4 linked regions of the Homo sapiens genome follow. The protein of the gene in region 3 interacts with the protein of the main gene of each other region in a biochemical or structural test. Each region holds a gene or a part of one and is shown on either strand. Other genes may lie near its edges.

Region 1 (2,583 bases), on a different chromosome or scaffold from region 3:
AGGAGAATTGGGAGGTGGAGGTTGCAGTGAGCCGAGATCGCACTACTACACTCCAGCGTGGGCAACAGAGTGAGACTCCCTTTCAAAAAAAAAAAAAAAAGAAAAAAGTGTATACTATTTTTTCAACTCAGGTTTCTTTCAACTTTGTCACTCTATTAACTAAATTTCCCTCAGTCATTAGTAAGAGTTCAAACTTTTTCCTCCTGGAACTTATTGAAACATCCTCAAAGAGGATAGATTTTTAAAAAACTGTGAAAGTGGGCCGGGCGCAGTGGCTCACGCCTGTAATCCCAGCACTTTGGGAGGCCGAGGCAGGCAGATCATGAGGTCAGGAGATCAAGACCATCCTGGCCAACATGGTGAAACTCCATCTCTACTAAAAATACAAAAATTAGCTGGGCGTGGTGGCATATGCCTGTAATCCCAGCTACTCAGGAGGCTGAGGCAGGAGAATCGCTTGAACCAGGGAGTCAAGAGGTTGCAGTGAGCTGAAATGGCACCACAGCACTCCAGCCTGGCGACAGAGCGAGACCTGTCTCAAAAAAAAAAAAAAAAAAAAAAAAAACCTGTGAAAGCGTCATATGAGAAACTGGAGGTAACTGTGGATCATCTTGCTAGACATTCTTTGTACTCTCACTGAGACCCTTTCTGCGTGGAATACTTGCTCTTCATTGTGACTCTCAAAGGCAGACAGAACCAAGTGTTCTGATTCACCAAGAGCTTTTGTCTCCTAATGAATTACTTTGTCTCCCTTTACCACCATTTCTCAGAATCTCAGAGTACTTCATTGGCATGATCAGATGGCACTGCGATTCTTCCTATTATTAGCACTGCTGGCTAAAACATAAAAGCGGTGAAGACCAAGGCCAGAGCTTAAACTCATAGGGGTCATTCAACTCTGTTTTTATTAGTTGTCCTTGGTTTATACTGTTAACCTCAGCTAGGCATCACATTAAGTATAAGTACTTATTCACAATAAATAATGAACTAGGGCCAATTCAGCATCATGAATGAAAAACCAGTGCAGGCCGGGCGTGGTGGCTCACGCCTGTAATCCCAGCACTTTGGGAGGCCGAGGCAGGCGGATCACGAGGTCAGGAGATCAAGACCATCCTGGCTAACACGGTGAGACCCCCATCTCTACTAAAAATACAAAAAATTAGCCAGGAGTGGTGGCGGGTGCCTGTAGTCCCAGCTACTGGGTGAGGCAGGAGAATGGCGTGAACCCGGGAGGCAGAGCTTGCAGTGAGCCGAGATTGCGCCACTGCACTCCAGCCTGGGTGACAGAGTGAGACTCCGTCTCAAAAAAAAAAAAAAAAAGAAAAACCAGTGCAAAACATGTGCTGTACTAACGGCAAGTCAGAAGTGTCATCCTCAAGTACAAAGATGAGGACAGATACAGATGCCTGAAGGGAGGATATGAGCCGTGTCTTAGAGGCTCAGAGTGTGTTAACAGGAGTCTGACAGTAGAACGTTGGCCCCTCGATCTTTAGTCTGACTTTAGGTATACATTATGTATAGCATACTACAAAATGAATTTTTACTTAGTCCTAGACATATCCAGATCATTGTGGGACAAATGATCTATCCTTTGTCTCTATAAAAGAACGTAATCACTAATAATAAGCTTTTCTACCTACAGAGTCTCTCTGAGAAATCAAGGAAAGTATTCCGAATATTTCGGCAGTGGGAATCTCTGTGCTCATGCTGAAGATACTCCAGCGCCTTCCTGGAGATAGCTGGAATGAGAGTGACTTTTTGAAAAATTAAGGCTGAGTTCCTTTCGGTCAGCTGACACTAAGTTTTTCCTGTTCTGGGTTAATCATAAGGAGCCCCCTGCCATAGCAAAGGCAGTGAGTGTCAACTATCTGCATCTGGCTGAGAGAGACCCGTTTCCTTTCAGGGATGTGGACAGGGTAAGGGCAGCAAGCATGGTTCTGTTAAAGGAGTGTGGGATTAACAGACTAGAAGGAAGACTAAGGACCTGACCACCCATTTCAGCATCTTCAATGTGGAGCAGTGTTCTGAGGACTCTTCTATCCTAGGACTATGACAGTGTGTATTAATAAAATATTTGCTAAGATTCTCATTGTTGGAGAACTGTTTTCCCCCTTGCCCTGTGGGCCGGAGAAACTTCAGTGGAACATTCAACTTTTGATTTTCAGATTGGCTGCAAAGCCTAAAATTTGTGATTCCAGTCAAGGAGGTATAATCTTTCCTAAACCAAAAGCAAGATGATTTTCATTATGCCACCAGGAAATTTCCTGGTGTGTTATAGTGAATGGTCAACTGATAATTTTCTCCTTGCTTTGATAATAACAGAATAAAACAATGTAATGGGGAGGAAGGCACTTCAGAAGAGACCCCTCTCCATGTGCCATTGAATGCATGAGTCCCCCAGTTGGGCTTCCCCAAGACTCGTTGCTTTTGGGGGATCATCAGTTTTTGTGGTAGAGAAGGTGGACCCTGAACTGCCCACTGATAAAGTAACCATGACCTAGCAAAGGCTAGAAAGTGATTATTCTCTGATATGCCATGTTTTTCGTCACTGAGATTGTTTTGTTTTATACTTTTGTACTGAAG
Region 2 (3,500 bases), on a different chromosome or scaffold from region 3:
GAAGGCATTTGTGTTCTACCTTGAGCACCTGGAACAGTGTCTTTCATATAAGAAGTGCTCCATACCTGTTTACTGGTTGAATAAAATAGATGTAGAAGCAGAGAAGATACTTGGGCTATGATTCTTGACTATCCAGATAAATGCTCAAAATTTGCTTCTGCAGGACACTGTTTTTCAGAGGTAGTGTAATATTAGGCTCTAGTGGTACATGCTGGGATGATTGCTAGCCACAGAGCCTCTTCCTCAAAAATTGCCACTGTTTCTCAAATATCACAGAATCAGAGGCAATTAAAAACAACAGAAGAAGGCCAGGCATGGTGGCTCATGCCTGTAATCCCACTATAATCCCAACAGTTTGGGAGGCCAAAGTGGGAGGATTACTTCAGCCCAGGAGTTTGAGACCAACCTGGGCAACATAGCAAGACCTCGTCTTCACAAAAAATTTAAAAATTGTCTGGGAATGGTGGAGTAGGCCTGGAGTCTCAGCTATTCAGAAGGCTGAGGTGGGAGGATCACTTTAGCCTGGGAAGTCGAGGCTATGGTTAAGTCATAATCATGCCATTGCACTCCAGCCTGTGTGATAGAGTAAGACCTTGTCTCAAAAAAACAAAAAACAAACAGGAGCAATAGGACATATTCTAAACATAAGAGTACTAAATAGGAAAAAAAAAAAAGTGGGACAGAATAGTGTTATAGTGACCCCAAAAAAGCCATTACAAACTGAGAGTAAAAAACTTGATTTTGGCTGGGCGTGGTGGCTCATGCCTGTAATCCCAGCATTTTGGGAGGCCGAGGTGGGTGGATCACGAGGTCAGGAGATCGAGACCATCCTGGCTAACATGGTGAAACCCCGTCTCTACTAAAAAAATACAAAAAAATTAGCCGGGCGTGGTGGCGGGCGCCTGTAGTCCCACCTACTCGGGAGACTGGGGCAGAAGAATGGCATGAACCCAGGAGGCTGAGCTTGCAGTGAGCTGAGATCACGCCACTGCACTCCAGTCTGAGCGACAGAGTGATACTCCATCTCAAAAAAAAAACAAAAAACAAAAAAACCCTGATTTTGTGGTATGAGCTTCTAAATAGCAGGAATCAGGATTTTTCTCTGTATCCGTAGTACCTAGTACATAGAGGCACTTGATCATCTGTTATTAAAATAAAGGAGTTTGATTTATGAATTAAACTGATATTAACTTTTTTTTTTTTAAGATGGAGTCTTGCTCTGTCACCCAGGCTTGAGTGCAGCGGCACCATCTTGGCTCAATGCAACCTCCACCTCCTGAGTTCAAGCGATTCTCCTGCCACAGCTTCCTGAGTAGCTGAGACTACAGGCATGGGCCACCATGTCAGGCTAATTTTTGTATTTTTAGTAGAGATGGGGTTTCCCCATGTTGGCCAGGCTGGTCTCGAACTCCTGACCTCAAGTGATCCACCCACCTTGGCCTCCCAAAGTGCTGGGATTTCAGGCATAAGCCACCGTGCCCAGCCTGATATTAACATTTTTAATCACTTATTTTCCACACCTGAGAATTAAGAAAAAAGGATGAAAAAACTGAAGAATTCTGAGACCTTGGATTCCTAGGCTACAAAAAGCTGGATAAAATAATTTCTTACCAAGATATACACTTTGTCATCCTGACCTTGAATCGTGAATCTAAAAGTGCTTCTAGCAGAGGAGAGCTGCACCAGACACTGGGCGATCACGCTCTGGACAAACCAAGACCTGTTTGAACAGAAATCAATTTTTACAATGTGTATCTCATAATAACTCTAACTGGCAAGATAAGCAAAAAATACACACACGGTACCTAAAAGGCAGACATATCCACATGCCAGACTTTTCTACGGACTGCTCATTCCCTCAGAATCTGCACTGATGTGGATTTTAATATATTTTAATGTATTCAGGTTTGCTCCATTCTTCTTAAAACCTATTCTCCAATCCTTGATACACTTTCCACACCAAACCTAACTATTCACCCCTACTGAATAAAAAAATACCATGTTAGAACAAGTCAATACTCCATTTGTGCTGTAGCATATTAAACAGAGAATAACTAACTTACAAAAGAAGGCAAGAAATTTCCTTCCAAACATCAGACAGTATTGTCTACATTTTCTTCCATTTGGATCTCCCTAAAGTGTCAGCTCTGAGGTACAGAATCAAAGTATTTACATAAGGATAAGTTCAAGGCTATACTCAAAGATTGCTATAATTTTTGGATATCAACAAATAAACTGGAATAAAGACATATCATGGTTAACTTGTTTGCAAACTAAAGAGTCAAAGAAATAAAAACACTAATAGATTTAGTGACTAAGTACCATGTTTTTAAAACATAGGAGTCATTTGAAACTGACCCATGTTTCAAATTTTAAATAATTCAAATTAAAACCAGAAATTATTCAAAAAACTTATTGGTGACTGGGTGATAAGATTCTAGATATCTGGCACATAGAAATAAGCATAGAAAACTTTCAGAATTAGAAGATTTATAAGAGCACATTTGTCTACAGCACTATATGATCAAAACATTTTTTAAAATCCTCAAAACTTTTATATGTGTGGTTTGGTTCAACTATCAAAAAGGCTTTCTCTTTCCTTTTCCAAATAAAGAAAGGTATGAATAAAAATGAATTCCCATATGATCAATTGTACTTCCTTTTTCCTACATTTGGAATTACAAATATATGCCATGGAATACTACTTAGCCACAAAAAGGAACGAAATAATGGCATTCACAGCATCCTGGATGTAACTGGAGACTATTATTCTAAGTGAAGTAACTCAGGAATGGAAAACCAAACATCGTATGTTCTCCTTCATAAGTGGGAACGAAGCTATGAGGATGCAAAGGCATAAGAATAATACAATGGACTTTGAGGACTTGGAGAAAAGGCAGGGGGAGGGGTAAGAGATAAAAGACTACACTTGAGTACAGTGAACAGTGCTTGTGTGATGGATGCACCCAAATCTCAGAAATTATCACTATTCATGTAAGCAAACATCATCTGTTCCCAAAAACCTATTAAAATAAAAAATAAATTCAAAACCAAAAAATAAAAAATAAAGGTCTGAATGGGGAAAAAAATAAATTACAAATAAATAAATGTAATTTGCTATTTGTACCTTGGTATGATAGGAAAACTCCTCTCAGATGACTGAATAATTATCTCTGTCATATAAAACTTGGTGGTTTCTAGAAACAAAAAAGAAAATTAAGACTCTCCCCAATACACTAATAATTTTATTGTGGGCAAGTTGACTCCAAATTAGGATATTCCAAACTAAATATTAAATATACTGGTAAAATTAATATTCTGTAAACATTTTCCCAAAACTACTTAGTTTCAGAAGACAAAGCATTGGTCACTACAAGGAGATAGTTCTGAAGCTTCTGTGTCTTTTTAGAAAATAATGCCCAGAGACTCTGCTTACACATATGGAAGATTATAAAAGTTAGTCACATCACAGGCATAGTGCACTTAGATAGAAATTAGTC
Region 3 (3,500 bases):
AGAGATGGGTACTGTATAATTAATATAACTGAAATTTAAGACAAAGCTAAAGACTCCTTTCCTAGGTGCTCTCATGCTTCCTCTGCTCAAACCTAATTGCACTTTTGTAATTGCTGACTTGCCCACCCTAAAACTAGACTCCACTTCCTTGAGGCCAACTTTGTAATTTTTTTTTTTTTTGAGATGGAGTCTCGCTCCAGGCTGGAGTGCATGGTATGATCTCGGCTCACTGCAACCTCCGCCCCCAGGTTCAAGTGATTCTCCTGCCTCAGCCTCCTGAGTAGCTGGGATTACAGGCGCGCACTGCCACACCTGGCTAATTTTTGTATTTTTAGTAGAGATAGGGTTTCACCATGTTGGTCAGGCTGGTCTTGAACTTTTGAGCTCGTGATCTGCCCAACTCTGCCTCCCAAAGTGCTGGGATTACAGATGTAAGCCACTGCACCCAGCTACATAGTTCTATTCTTAAGACCTAGGGTAGGCCGGGCACAATGGCTCACGCCTGTAATCCCAGCACTTTGGGAGGCCAAGGTGGGCGGATCACGAGGTCAGGAGATCAAGACCATCCTGGCTAACACGGTGAAACCCCATCTCTACTAAAAAAAAATATATATATATATATAAAATTAGCCGGGCGTGGTGGCAGGCACCTGTAGTCCCAGCTACTCGGGAGGCTGAGGCAGGAGAATGGCATGAACCCAGGAGGCGGAGGTTGCAGTGAGCCGAGATCACGCCACTGCTCTCCAGCCTGGGCGACAGAGAGAGACTCCGTCTCGAAAAAACAAAAAAAGACCTAGGGTAGTGCCTGTCACATAGGAGAAGCATTTGTTGAATCAATGAATATGAATGAACTACTAGTATGTCATTTGACCTTCAAGTTTCTCCATCTGTAAGGAGTAAAAGTTGCTCTACCTTTCTCAAAGGGAATAAAGTTGAAATCAGGGAAAGAAATGGAAACACTCGACTGGTTGCAATGGCTCACGCCTGTAATTCCAACACTTTGGTAAGTGGAGGTGGGTGGATCGCTTGAGCCCAGAGTTTCAAGACCAGCCTGGGTAATATAGAGAGACCCCATGTCTACAAAAAATACAAAGCTCAGCCTCCAGAGTAGCTGGGACTACAGGCGTGTGCCTGTATATATATATATATATATATATATATATATATTTTATATATTTTTTGTAAAGATGAGGATTTGCTATGTTGCCCAGGCTGGTGGGCGACTCTTTTGTAGTTCATAAGTGTGATGATTTGGTGTTCATGTGAACATGTGAAACGTGCCACCCTCAAACCTTGTTACAATGTGGGCATATTACCCATCTGACATGAAAAAAATTTAAAAACTAGACAGACACCTGTAATCCCAGCTACTCTGGAGGCTGATGTTGCAGTGGGCCAAGACTGCACCACTGCACTCCAGCCTGAGTGACAGAGCGAGACCTTGTCTCAAAAACAAAAAGATGTGGAAACATTCTAAGACATCTTTTTTAACTATTCCTTCAGTAGATCCCATATTTATGAACCACTTGAATTGCCTTTTAATAACAAAAGTTCTGTATTTAGTCACTCTTTAAAATTTAAAAGCTTAGGAGTTCTGTGGGACACAGCTTACCCATTCACCATTATCCAGAATTTTCAGTGCTAAGCAAAAAGCTCCTGCTGCAATTTGAGAAGGAGGAAAGTGCACCATGTCATAGTCCAACATAGTTAGTTCCATCAGGTATTTGGCCAAAGTATGTTGCTCGACATCAACCTGAAACAAAACCCATGTTACTGAGTTTCTTTCAGAAAATTTTCCTTTGGCACTAACCTGCATGCCCATATGTATCTTTAACTACAAATGTTTGTCTACAAACTCTCAAATGCCCATGGAAAGTCCTAATATTAACATGCAGCCTGACTAGAAATAAAGAACAACTTTATCCCTTCCCCATGTAGTTAGGTATAATACAGGTCAGTTGAATTCAACGTGCTTGGTCAGCAGCAGTGTTCCCCCTAATGTACCCATACGGAGAGGTTTCTCAAGAAACCTGTACCTCTCCAATCTTAGATGCTCTCCGAAGGAAGTGCAAAGGTAGAGGCCGACCCAGACCAAAGTTTAAAGCTCTTAGAATCTTCATTTCCATCTGTCTGATTTGGTGCTTAGTATAAGTGTTGTCAGTCACAAAAGCAAAGTCACCAATTTCTGGAGGGTACATTTCTTCATATTTGCTTGCAATAAACATGGCAGTGACACCAACCAGCTGCAGCATCTTCTTGGGCACACAATTATTCTGCAATGGGAATTTCAATAGGGTGAATAAAATGTTTGAAAAGGAGACACAGAGCTATGATGAAGGAGAGGTAGAAAGACATTCTCCCATAGCAAAATCTTAATGACACCATATCCCCCAAGAAAGATTTTAGTTGAAAAAGTCAGTTTATTTCTTTCTTTTTTTTTTGAGTCTCGCTCTGTCACCCAGGCTGGAGTGCAATGGCGTGATCTCAGCTCACTGCAACCTCCGCCTCCAGTAGCTGGGACTACAGGCGCCCGCCACCATGCCCGGCTAATTTTTTGTATTTTTAGTAGAGACAGGGTTTTACTGCGTTGGCCAGGATGGTCTCGATCTCCTAACCTTGTGATCCACCCGCCCGCTGGGATTACAGGCATGAGCCACTGCGCCCAGACTGGCCTGAAAACATCAGTTTCTTATGACTCGGCTAGAATCCTGGAAGGGAAAACTCTTACTGAAATGCTCACCTGCATGAACCGATCAATAATGGAGACAGTCATGTACATGGTCTCCTGCAACAACCTGAATTTCATTTGAACCTGTACTAGCCAGTCAATTAGGATGGCTCTCATGTTTCCAGTGACTTCCCGACCCAGTAGGTATTTTGGTCTGACTGCTTGCTCTTCCTGCAAAAGAAAATGCTGATTATTCTTAGAAACATGACTCCATGTGACACATTTATGTCCAGAAAGATCAGTTAGTTCCTACAGTAGCACTGGGGCATTTATAATCTATATCAGTTCTTAATTCAATTATTCATATGGTCAACCACAAACAACACCATCACCAAGAAATAAAGCAAACATGAAGGCTGGCGTGGTGGCTCACGCCTGTAATCCCAGCACTTTGGGAGGCTGAAGTTGGCAGATTGCTTGCAGCCAGGAGTTCGAGACCAGCCTGGCCAACATGGCAAAACCTGTCTTTACTAAAAATACAAAAATTAGCTGGGCATGGTTGCGCACACCTGTAGTTCCAGCTACTTGGGAGGCTGAGGCAGGAGAATTGCTTGAACCTGGCAGGTGGAGGTTGCAGGGAGCCGAGATTGCACCACTGCACTCCAGCCTGGGTGACAGAGTGAGACTGTCTCCCCACCCCAAAAAAAAAAGAAAAAAAAGGCAAACATTAGATAGGACAGTATGACAGCTTTTTTATATTGTCAGGTCTTACGATATTCTTCACCACAACTGCTGCTGGTCCACTCCCTTCCAAATAAAGATACTACATTAT
Region 4 (3,500 bases), on a different chromosome or scaffold from region 3:
TTAACTTACTGCTATATGTGGCCATTACAACCTCAAGAGCGCACGCCAATAAAGACATATGAAAAATGTTGTCATTCAGAAGTTTGCTAAAGGAAAAAAAAAAAGATTATAAAATACTTACTTCTATAAAAAGAAAAAAATTTTTTACTAAAAGTAAAAAATTTACCTAAAATTTTGAATGGATAATCGTTCTTCTTCCTGAAACAGATAATTTAAAAAAAAAAAAAGAAGTTGTTTAATTGAAACCTTATTTGTGTCAGCATTGAATTTTTTTTTTTTTTTTTTTTTTTTTTAGATGGTGTCTTGCTCTGTTGCCAGGCTGGGGTGAAATGGCACAATCTTGGCTCACTGCAACCTCCACCTCCCTGGTTCAAGGGATTCTCCTGCCTCAGCCTGCCAAGTAGCTGGGACTACAGGTCTACACCACCACGCCCAGCTAATTTTTGTACTTTTAGTAGAGACAGGGTTTCACCATTTTGGCCAGGATGATCTTGATGCCTTGACCTCCTGATCTGCCCACCTCGGCCTCCCAAAGTGCTGGGATTGCAGGCGTGAGCCACCGCGCCCGGCTGAAATTTTTTTATATTGTTTTTAACTTACTGATTTAAGCATGGATTCCATTACTCGGTAATACAAGCGAACTCCAAGTTTGTATCGCTACAAACAAACAAAAAGAAAAATAAGAGCCTGCTATTTTAGAAAATCACAATTATGAAATTTTTTTTTTTTTTGAGATGGAGTCTCACTGTTTTGCCCAGGCTGGCCTTCACACTCCTGGGCTCAAGAGATCCTCCTGCTTTGGCCTCCCAAGAGGCTGGGATTATAGGCATGTACCACTATACCCAGCTGACAATTACTAAAATTTTTTAAAAAGCCTTTTCTTAAAACATACTTCTCACCCTTCTTACAAATATGGCCGCCAAGACAACACAAAAGCTAGCTTGTCTAAAACTCACAACTTAAGTATTAAGTGGTGATTAACATTCCCAAGTAAATTAACAAGAGGGTAGGTCCAGTACCTGGATTTCCTTAACTCCATTTCAGTTTATATCATTCATACTAAAGATAGGTTATGTGCCCAGTACTATTTTAAGCACTTTATGTACCTTATATAACATTTCTCATGACCTAGGACATGTATTTTCAAGATAGCTGTCCAGGATTAAGAGGACAGTCTTTGTCCATAAATTTAGTAAAACTGACACAGGCAAAAATCAGATCAAACTGACCTTATGAGCAAGAAGTTTTAGCCAAATAACTAGTTCCCATTATTTGAAAGAATAACCAAATTTTAGAAATATAAACACACACCATATTATTTCCTTCCAAACTAAGAGCAAAAATCTCATATATAATCATGCACCGCATAACAACGTTTTTGGTCAATAACTGACTGCATATCTAACAGTAGTCCCATAAGATTATAATGGAGCTGAAAAATTCCTATTGTTTAGTGTAATGTAGTGCAATGCATTACATTACTCACATCTTTGTGATGATGCTGATGTAAATAAACCTATTGCACTGCCAGTCATATAAAAGTATAGTACATACAATTATGTACAGTACATAATACTTAATAATGAACATGTTACTGGTTTATGTATTTATTATACTATACTTTTTATTAGTTTAGAGCATCCTCCTTCTACTTGTAAAAAAAAAAAAAAGTTAAATGTAAAACACCCTCAGGCAGCTCCTTCAGGAGATATTCCAGAAGATAGCATCATCATCATAGGAGTTGACAGCTCTATGCATTTTATTGTCCCTGAAGACTTGGGACAGAATTTGGAGGCAGAAGACAGTGGTATTGTTAATCCTGATCCTGTGTAGGCCTAGGCTAATGTGTGTGTTTGCCTTTGTTTTTGGCAAAAATCTTTATGAAATTGAAAAAATTTTTAAATAGAAAAAAGTGTACAGAATAAGGATTATAAAGAAAGAAAATATTTTTGTACAGCTGTATAAGGTGTTTGTGTTTTAAGCTAAGTGTTATAAGAGTCAAAAGTTTCTTACAAACTGAAGATTTATAAAGTAAAAAAGTTACAGTGAGCTATGGTTAATTTACTACTGAAGAAAGAAAAAATGTTTATGAAATTAGTTTAGCCTAAGTGTAGTATTTATAAAGTCTACGATAGTGTACAGTCATGTCATAGGTAATATTGTAGGCCTTCACATTCACTTGCCACTCGACTCACTGACTCATTCAGAGCAACTTTCAATCCTGTAAGCTCCTTTCATAGTAAGTGCTCTGTGCAAATGTTCCATTTTTTATCTTTTGTACTATATCTTTACCTTTTCTATGTTTGGATATATTTAGATACACAAATGGTAACACATTATGTTACCATTACCTACAGTATTCAGTACACATGCTGTAGAGGCCTGTAGCCTAGGAATGAATAGGCTATATCATACAGCTTAGATGTACAATCGGCTATACCATCTAGGTTTGTACAGACACACTCTACCAGGTTCACACAACAAAATTGCCTAATGATGCATTTGTCAGAACATATCCCTGTTAAGTGGTGCATGGCTGTAGAATCAAAAAGAACCATTAAATATCAATGTTTAAAACACTGATGGCATCAAAATATAACCTCACTACACTGAAATAAATGTGTACAGTGGACTCCAGTTTTCCAATATATTTTTGTATATTATCCTCATTAATGCCACACAACAAAGCAGAGCAAATATAGAACCTGAATCTCAGAGAAGTTAAATGACATGTCCAAGATCAACAATGGTAGAACCAAATATAAACCCAGGGCTGTCACTCCATGGCCCATACTCTTACCTATTATATTAGCTTTAGATTTCCTGAAATAATATCACTCAATAATATCACTGACAAATGGCATGTATAGTCCCATTCACATTAGGATATGCATACATGAACAGTCATACATGTAGAAGTCAAAGCAAAATCAAAAATTTAATATCAAAGATTTCAATTTTTTTCTTAGTTGTATTTTCCAAAATTTCTACAATGGCTATGTGTTCCTTTATTACATAGTTTTTATAATGGGGTGGGAGGTAGTTTTCCATAAAGTTACCCATAAATAGCAGCATACACAGGCAGCAGGGATATAGTATCTGACAGTATTTTATACTACTAGACAAATACTGTTAGAGTATTTATACGAACTGGAAAGATGCTGCTTTTAATATTATTACTCTATAGTACCACGAATTACAATGAATTCAAGTTACCTGTGATCCAATTTCGACACAACCCTGTCCCACAGCTTTAGCAAATTTCTCTTTAAAGATGTATCCTATATCCTTCACTCTTTTCAGTATACTTTCTTTTGGATTCACTGTGCAGTTCTTTAGGAGGTAAAAACAGAAATCAATGTCGAGGATACTGTGTAATCAGAATTAATATTTTCTGCTCCATAATATATGACTTTTTAAATTGTTCATAAAAATGTGGAAACACTTCCATAATAACTAGGTAACCACAACTACTGAACATAAGCAGACAATATCATTTC

What was found. The genes of interacting proteins can lie anywhere in the genome.
Region 1: of the proteins of CCNB1 (region 3) and ZC3HC1, one has a biochemical effect on the other in vitro, tested with the Homo sapiens proteins (3 studies listed by BioGRID, with this or other methods).
Region 2: the proteins of CCNB1 (region 3) and UBE3D form a complex in vitro, tested with the Homo sapiens proteins (one study listed by BioGRID).
Region 4: of the proteins of CCNB1 (region 3) and RB1, one has a biochemical effect on the other in vitro, tested with the Homo sapiens proteins (2 studies listed by BioGRID).

The regions. Positions count from the first base shown.
Region 1 is NC_000007.14:130,017,792-130,020,374, reverse strand, and holds the end of ZC3HC1 (zinc finger C3HC-type protein 1), read left to right. Parts: intron 1-1,642; coding exon 1,643-1,711; 3' UTR 1,712-2,083; downstream 2,084-2,583. UniProt on the Homo sapiens protein: Required for proper positioning of a substantial amount of TPR at the nuclear basket (NB) through interaction with TPR.
Region 2 is NC_000006.12:83,020,842-83,024,341, forward strand, and holds part of UBE3D (E3 ubiquitin-protein ligase E3D), read right to left. Parts: intron 3,198-3,500; coding exon 3,128-3,197; intron 1,983-3,127; coding exon of another isoform or gene 1,970-1,982; exon of another isoform or gene 1,828-1,969; intron 1,721-1,827; coding exon 1,612-1,720; intron 1-1,611. UniProt on the Homo sapiens protein: E3 ubiquitin-protein ligase which accepts ubiquitin from specific E2 ubiquitin-conjugating enzymes, and transfers it to substrates, generally promoting their degradation by the proteasome.
Region 3 is NC_000005.10:69,173,650-69,177,149, reverse strand, and holds part of CCNB1 (G2/mitotic-specific cyclin-B1), read right to left. Parts: intron 2,900-3,500; coding exon 2,741-2,899; intron 2,274-2,740; coding exon 2,037-2,273; intron 1,754-2,036; coding exon 1,613-1,753; intron 1,327-1,612; exon of another isoform or gene 1,223-1,326; intron 1-1,222. UniProt on the Homo sapiens protein: Essential for the control of the cell cycle at the G2/M (mitosis) transition.
Region 4 is NC_000013.11:48,376,751-48,380,250, reverse strand, and holds part of RB1 (retinoblastoma-associated protein), read right to left. Parts: intron 3,334-3,500; coding exon 3,217-3,333; intron 658-3,216; coding exon 601-657; intron 417-600; exon of another isoform or gene 377-416; intron 199-376; coding exon 167-198; intron 87-166; coding exon 10-86; intron 1-9. UniProt on the Homo sapiens protein: Tumor suppressor that is a key regulator of the G1/S transition of the cell cycle. The hypophosphorylated form binds transcription regulators of the E2F family, preventing transcription of E2F-responsive genes.